Linked DNA regions of Homo sapiens. The protein of the gene in region 1 interacts with the protein of each later gene in a pairwise test. Each region holds a gene or a part of one and is shown on either strand. Other genes may lie near its edges.

Region 1 (4,452 bases):
GCCTGGCCCAGATACCCAGAGCGGAGCTGAGACTGGATGCTGATGCAGGCCCCCGACTCTCCTTATACCTGCCTTGCTGTGGGACCCTGGTCCTGTCGGGACCTCAGTTTCCCTCTCTGTGTAGGAGGTTGTTGGGTCGGCTGATGTATCTGAGGGACTTGCTTCTTTAGACAGGGTCCACCCCAGTGCCTGGTGCCTGGGGGTGCTCAGATGGTGCTTGTTGGTTGGTTGAAGGAATGAGTGGGTAAATGGACTGGAAACTGAGGCAGATACTCTGGCTCACCTCTCACTTATGCACACGGGATGCCCCCACCAGCTCACTTTCACACATACCCTCACACCTACACTCAGAGATTCATGTGCATTCACCATCGATTGTCCACCCCTCTTCACCTGCATGCTCCCATGAACTCATACGCTGCCAACCCACACCAGCCTGGGTGAAAAAAAAAAAGAAGAAAGTATGTCCAAATTTGAATCTAATCAAACCTGTTTTCAGAAAATACAGGAGACAGAGGAATAGATTAAAGGACCTCACAAGGAAGCAATCAACCAAGTCCAGAATATAGAACATTCTACTGGACAATGGAGCCAGTTCTCTCCAGAAATCAACCGCATGAACAAAAAAACAAACACAGGGCCAGGCTCAGTGGCTCATGCCTGTAATCCCAACACTTTGGGAAGCTGAGGCGGAAGGATCCCTTGAGCCCAGGAGTTTGAGACCAACCTAGGCAAAACAGGGAGACCCTATCTCTACAAAACACGGTCTCAGGGAGCTTCCACCTCCACCCCCACAGATCTGTTCCCATGGGGTTTCTGGGCTCAATGTTTCTTGGTCTCCAGGGAGGCCCTGCCCTGTCATGCCCCTGACCACAGTGGCTCTTCCGAGCTCCTCTCTTCTCCCTCCACTTTATATCCCAGCGGGCATTCTCTTTCCTCCACTCCCCTTCTTTTATTTTCTCTCTCACCCCCATCCAGAGACGCACAGACCCAAATGTGCACAGGCACATGCTCGCTGTCTGTGTCTTGTCATCTCGTCTTTTGTCTTGGATCTTACCTTGTCTTTGTCCCTGAATCTCCTTGTTCCTCTCATCTCTCCCGGTGTTTACATCTGTCTTTTTCCCTGAGCCTCGCTCCCTCCATCCATTCCTCCGCCCTCTCATTTTTTTTCCCGACTCCCTCCTGCCTCCTCCCTTTCTCCTTTGATTTTCCTGGTCCCTCATCTCTCCTCCCTCCTCTTTCTCACTCTCATGCTCCCTTTTTCGCTCTCTTGAGTACATGCACTTGCTTTCTCTCTCTTGCTTTTCCTCTTTCTCACCTTAGCTCCTGGCCTCGGGCGCTGTCTACACCCCACCCCATCCCTCGCTCTTTGAGAAGCCTCTGTGCAGTGCCCAGGTCCTGGCGGCCCAGCTTGGAAGTTCCTGTGGTACCCCTTGAGAGGCCCTAGGGCCACAGCATTTCCTCCCAGGGGTGACTTGGTAGTGATACGCTCTGTTTCTTCACTTCTGCAATTGCCAGACAGCATAGAGGCTGAGGCTGGGGCCAGGACCCAGACAGAGACACACGGTCACTGCAGCTGAAGCCGCTGCCCCTGCTACAGGTAAGGGGGAATCCTGGCCCCTGCTGGGCAAGGGGGAGGCATATAAAAATGTCCTCAGGAGGCAAACCAAGGTCATGCCCCCAGGCTGCACCTAAGCAGATGGGTGCTTCTATTTCTTTTCTTTTCTTTTTTTTTTTTTTTTTTTTTGAGACAGGGTCTCTCACTCTGTTGTCCAGGCAGAAGTGCAGTGGCGCGATCATGGCTCGCTGCAGCCTGGACCTGCCAGGCTCAGGTGATCCTCCCACTTCAGCCTCCCGAGTATCTGGGACTAGAGGCATGCTCTACCACGCCTGGCTAATTTTTGTATTTTTTGTGGAGACGAGGTCTTGCCTTGTTGCCCAGACTGGTCTCTAACTCCTGGGCTCAAGCAATCAGCCTGCCTCGGCCTCCCAAAGTGCTGGGATTGCAGGCTTGAGTCACTGTGCTCGGCTGCTTCTGTTTTTAAGGGATTTTTCTGGCACCTTTCTCAGGCCCAGAGTCTCATGTTTAGAAATAACTTCTAGTGTCCAAACATTCCTGGAGAACCCAACACCCAAGTTTGGCTTTTCTGAGGCTGGGGCAGTGCTGACCCCAGAGATCCCACTGGGAGGTGTTGATGGTGGTGATGGTGGCAGTGCTGACCCCAGAGACCCTACTGGGAGGTGGTGATGGTGGTGATGGGGGCAGCTTGGATCTCAGGGAGCCAAATGACATCTACTTGACTAGCTGTGTGGTCTTGGCCAAGTTACGCTCCATCTCTGTGCAGTTTTCTAAATTGTCAAATAATGATAATCCCATCTCCCCCACAGAATTGTCGGGTCATATAAAGGATCTGGTACAGGGCGGGGTACTTAGGAACTCACTAAATGCTAGGTTTGCGGGGTGGGGAAGGGGGTGCTGAAAATAACCAGGTTCTTATACACAGGGCCAAGCCCACAAACAATAGCCCCTATCAGGTCCCAGGTGCTGGGGACAGGGCCCAGGCTGGCACCCACCGTCCTCTGCTTGCAGGAGGTCCAGACATGGGGCTGTGCACTCACTCACTTGTGAAATATGACAGAACCAGCAGGCTCTCTCCCCACACCTCTGGCTGCTCTCCTTTAGCTCTGACTGAATACCCAGCTGTGTTCCAGGTGTTTGGGGTGGTGTGTGTGTTGGGGGAGGCGGTAGGGGTGGGAGGTGTGTTGGGGAGTGCTAGAGAAGCAAAAGAGACACCACTATCTTTAGGTGCTGACAAACCGCCGGAGAAAGAGTTCAGCCCCTTAGATGACTGGGTCCTGGGCCTCAGGTGGGCATCCGGGGTTTCGATCTCAGCTCCTGCTGACAAGCCGGGGCCTTGAGTTGTTCGGAAGTTCCACTTTCCTCCTTTGCAGATTGCAGGTTAAAATACTGACCTCTGTGGGCCGGGCATGGTGGCTCACGTCTGTAATCCCAGCACTTTAGGAGGCCGAGGCGGGTAGATCACGAGGTCAAGAGATGGAGACCATCCTGGCGAACATGGTGAAACCCCATCTCTACTAAAAATACAAAAATTAGCTGGGCGTGGTGGCGGGTGCTACTCGGGAGGCTGAGGCAGGAGAATTGCTTGAACCTGGGAGGCGGAGGTTGCAGTGAGCTGAGATGGCGCCATCGCACTCCAGCCTGGGCAACAGAGCGAGACTCCGTCTCAAAAAACAAAACAAAACAAAACAAACAAACCACTGATCTGTGAGTTTGCAGGGAGGATGAAGTAAGAGTTGGGATGGGGAAGTGCTTTGTCAATTGGAAAATGCTGCGCAAAGGGGACTGATGAATTCCCTCTAATGCTGACTCTGGGATTCCTGCTGTTAAACGCCTTAGGGATGAGGAAACTGTTTTGTTCACTGTTGTATCCTTTATCCTTAGCACAGGGTTTGCAACATAGCATATGCTTAGAATATGCACAGGACAGATGAATGATGAAGCGGTTTTTGCAGTTGGAAGGGAACGGACGGTGAGCCAGAGGCCCAGTATCTGGTCCCAGCTCTGCCCCTGACACTGTGTTCACCTTGGGAAAATCCTTTCTCATCTCCGGGCCTCAGTTTCCCCATCTGGTCATTGAAGGAGTAAGGAATTCACAGTTTATGCTATCAGTGACAAAATGTGCCTACAGGACTGAGTTTTCTCTGACTGGTGGTGGGAAGCAGGTATGAGGAGAGGCTGGGATCTTATTGTCCTTTTACAGGGAGCAGAGATTCCCCACTTCCCACCCCAGGCCTGTGAAGGAGGCCTTGTTGAAGAGGATGGCATTCTCTTTCTTGGTGGCATCCCCCACTTTCCTGTTCTGATCCCCTAGATGGGTGGAGGCTTGGACCTCAGAGAGGGCAACAGTGGAGCAGGAGCCGGCAGCACCCCTTGATGGGCCTAGGGGTGTGTGTCTGGGTCGGGAGCAGAGCCAGCTCCCAAAGGGCAAGTGCTGGGACCCTGCTGCAGCCCCCTCTCTGACCACCCCCTCTTGGGCTCCTTGACAGCATGATGAGAGCGGGGAGAAGCCTCTGGTGTGTCTTTGTGTGTGCATGTGTGTCTGTGGTTATGTGGGGTGGACAGGGAGCTGGCTCTGGCTATGTCTACATGTATCTGGAATGATGGGCCGGGAGCATATCCGGGCTGCATGTGGCCTGCTCCAGCCAGACAGCTCCCCTCCCAGGAGCAGATGGCCAGCAAAGCCAGCTGAGAGGCTGATATGCCTCTGTGTGTCTTTGGCCGAGGGGAATCACAGCCAGATTCTGTGTGTGTATTTGTTTGTGTGTTTGTGTGTGAGAGAGAGACAGAATATGCAGGGGGAGGATCACCACTCAGCCACCCCTCCCCACCCCCTTGGTTCTGTAGGTGGGAGATCTTCAGGGCCTGGGTTT
Region 2 (3,810 bases), on another chromosome or scaffold:
TTAGCCAGGCATGGTGGCACATGCCTGTAATCCCAGCTACTTGGGAGGCTGAGGCAGGATAATTGCTTGAACCCAGGAGGCAGAGGTTGCAGTGAGCCGAGATCGTGCCATTGCACTCCAGCCTGGGCAATAAGAGCAAATCTCCATCTCAAAAAAAAAAAAAAAAAAGAATAAAAAATACGCAAGGTACCAGAGATGCTTCAAAGGCAAGCATTCCCTCCATCCCTGCCCACGGCCCGTGCAACAGCTTGATTTTGATAGGAAACATGGGTAGGCTGCTTCCAGATTCCTTCACTTTACTATTTCAGATCCTACCAGCTTCGCCAAGCTCCTAGATACCACGTGTTACCTATTGTGAATCATGGATCTTGGTGTCCCCATCCTGCATTCGTCTGTTCCAGCTCTGTCACTAAGCTAGTTTGGTGACTTTGGCCAGTTAACCTGCCTGACCTCAGTTTCCTCAGCTGTACACAGGATAATAATAAGCCCAATGCAAAGGTCAAAGAGGGTTTAATGAAATAACATTGAAAGCAAAGCACGAGAAGGGAGCACCAGGAGAGTGGGGCTCTTGTCACGTTCATTGGGTTTCACATTGAGTTCTCCAGAAGCAGAGGCTGAGGCAGTTTGTTGCGTGGGATATTTATTAAAAGTCAGCACATGTGGGAGGGAGAAGGGGAAGGGGAGGCAAAATTGGGCAGAGGGTGAAGTTGAAGGACAGTGCAGCTGGACAAAGCCTCCCTAACCCTAGGAGCCATAAAGGCACGGCCTTTACCCCTGCCATGATCAGCCATTCCATGGCAGTTACCCAGGAAGGGTAAAGGAGCTCCTGTCTCGAGGCTCTGCTCTCAGCATTCATGGTAGCAGGAGCGAGCACCAAGTCCACGGATGAGGATCTCTGTGGCACATCTCCCTCCATGGGGTTTCCTGTCACCAACACCCAGCACACCTGGGAAAGAACAGTCCACATCTTTTGAAGGGCCTGGGAGGTGGTTCAAATAAGGGTTACTGTTGTCTTGCTGAGGTGGACTAGAAATAGAACACAAGCCGCCTGACTGTTGCTTTTGCTTTCACAGATAGCTCGCTGTTGTTTTTGCTTCAGTCCTGGTGGAGAGGGTAAGCAGAGCGCTTTTATTCTTTGCACCTGTGTGGCACTGCAGACCTATAACTCTAATCTGTAGTCATTTGGGATTCAGACACAAATAACTTGAATAGTAAGGAGAAAGTTTTATTCTAAAGCTGACTTACTACTTATACACTTTTCACATTCTTCCTGAAGGATAGCTGAGTTTTGTTTGTGTTGGTATTCTGGTAGAGAGAATCAGTCCAAATTTTGGTTTAAATGTAAGTTAAATTATACAGTGAGATTTAGAGAATCAGAGAGCACATTTTTTAAAAAGGAGTGATTTGGAAAATACCAAGAGGTCCTGACACCTTATTTTGGGGCCATTTCATTCCTTCACCTTACTTTCCAAGGTGGATTGGAGGATTCCAAGGGCTTGAGAACTAACTCTTGTTTTACTCTCACTTTCTGCTGAGCTTATAGTAAGTTTTACGTCTTTAAGGGTTTTTAAGGGTTCTCTTTCTGTTAAAATAAATGTGGCAGGGCAGGCACGGTGGCTTATGCCTGTAATCCCAGCACTTCGGGAGGCTGAGGTGGGTGGATCACCTGAGGTCAGGAGTTCGAGACCAGCCTGGCCAACATGGCAAAACCCTGTCTCTACTAAAAAACAATACAAAATTAGCCGGGCGTGGTGGCGTGTGCCTGTAATCCCAGCTACTTGGGAGGCTGAGGCAGGAGAATCGCTTGAACCTGGGAGGTGGAGGTTGCAGTGACCCAAGATCATGCCACTGTACTCCAGCCGGGGCAAAAAGAGTGAAACTCCATCTCAAAAAATAAATAAATAAAAATAAATGTGGCATTAGGTAACTCTTCCTGTTACGGAAGTTGCTAGGGTGGAGTGGGGGTTTTGTGCTTAGGGCACAGATTGAAGTTGCCAGAGGGTACAGATGGCTTTCTGGCATCTTTTCTACTGACAGCCCTGTAGAATTAGCGAGCGTGACTTTGCTGAATGGTAAACACACACATTCACTCATTGAGCCTGGGCTCCCTCTGTGCTTCACAGACACTGAAGAGCAGCAGCCGGGGAAGGAGGGACCACGGGTCATTTATGACGAGAAGAAAGGCACCGTCTACATCTACTCCTACTTCCACTTCGTGTTCTTCCTAGCTTCCCTGTATGTGATGATGACCGTCACCAACTGGTTCAAGTGAGTGGCCCATTTGCTTAGGTATTTTTGAAGCAAAGCCTTAAAGTTAAGAGTTAAGTACTGTTCGTGTTTGTTTGTTTGAGAAGGAGTCTCACTCTGTTGCCCAGGCTGGAGTGCAGTGGCACGATCCTGGCTCACTGCAACCTCTGCTTCCCAGGTTCAAGCGATTCTTGTGCCTCAGCCTCCCGAGTAGCTGGGATTACATGCATGTACCACCATGCCTAGCTAATTTTTATATTTTTAGTTGAGACGGGGTTTTGCCATGTTGGCCAGGCTGGTCTTGAACTCCTGACCTCAAGTGATCCACCTGCCTTGGCCTCTCAAAGTGCTGGGATTACAAGCGAGTTCTGAGTTTTAACAGTGGATGGGTATGTTTTAACCCTGGAAACTGGTGATGCTTATGGCAACTTTAAGAAAATGGAAAGTTAGCTCTATATGGACAGTCTGGAAAACATGGTAATGAAGGAAAAATAGGAACTCCTAAGCATTCATCTGCCTTTCAGAAAGAGAAAATATCCCTTTTTTTTCTACTTCAAATTTTGTGTATCTTTTTCCCCATTTTTCTTCATTTTCATTACAAAAATTGGAAACATCTTTTTTTAAAATACAAACTAAATGTGGAATTATGAAAAGTAACAATGTGGTACCCCCCCGCCTCTACTTCCCCCACACAGATAACCACTGCTAGGATGTGTATCCTTCTCCTTTTCTGTGCATTTATAAACCTCTGTAGTTTTTTTTTGTTTTTAGTTGGAGTCTTGCTTTGTCACCCAGGCTGGAGTGCAGTGGCGCAATCTCGGCTCACTGCAACCTCCGCCCCTGGGTTCAAGTGATTCTCCTGCCTCAGCCTTTTGAGTAGCTGGGATTACAGGTGCTGCCACCACACTGGCTAATTTTTTTTTTTATTATTTTTAGTAGAGACGGAGTTTCACCATATTGGCTAGGCTGGTCTCGAACTCCTGACCTTGTGATCCACCTGCCTCAGCCTCCCAAAGTGCTGAGATTATAGGCATGATCCACCATGTCCAGCTAATTTTTTTTTTAACATAAATGTCATTATACATGTTTTCCCCTGGAGGCTTTTTTTTTTTTAACTTGGCAGTACATGATTGACCTGGCCTTCCCTGGCACTACACAGAGGTTCATACTTTTTCTACAGGTCCACAGCTTTGGTTGTATCATAATTTTTTTGACCACTAAGTTAAGCTTAGACATGTAGGCTCATTGTGCTTCCTTTTATCATTCATTCAACAGATGTGCAAGTGGCTCCTATGTGCCACACGGTTCTATGAGGCAGGATTTATAGTCCAGCAGGAGAGACAGACTATGACGCAAGTCAAATATGGTGTGTTAGATGGTGATGAGTATTGGGGAGAAAAATAAAATTAGGAGAGGGAATTGGGGTAGGGGTGGTGGGAGTGGTGGTTTCAAGCACAGTGATTGGAGAGATTCTTCCTGAAGGAGGAGAGGAGAAGGGAGCTTTAATGCTTCCCAGTGATGCTTTGGGAACTCCTGGGAATTTTTGGCTTGGAAAGCTTAAGA

The links.
Region 2: the proteins of PTAFR (region 1) and SERINC5 interact in a two-hybrid assay, tested with the Homo sapiens proteins (one large-scale study listed by BioGRID and IntAct).

What each region holds. Positions count from the first base shown.
Region 1 is NC_000001.11:28,173,740-28,178,191, reverse strand, and holds the start of PTAFR (platelet-activating factor receptor), read left to right. Parts: upstream 1-1,501; 5' UTR 1,502-1,600; intron 1,601-4,452. UniProt on the Homo sapiens protein: Receptor for platelet activating factor, a chemotactic phospholipid mediator that possesses potent inflammatory, smooth-muscle contractile and hypotensive activity.
Region 2 is NC_000005.10:80,144,548-80,148,357, reverse strand, and holds part of SERINC5 (serine incorporator 5), read left to right. Parts: intron 1-1,073; coding exon 1,074-1,113; intron 1,114-2,123; coding exon 2,124-2,268; intron 2,269-3,810.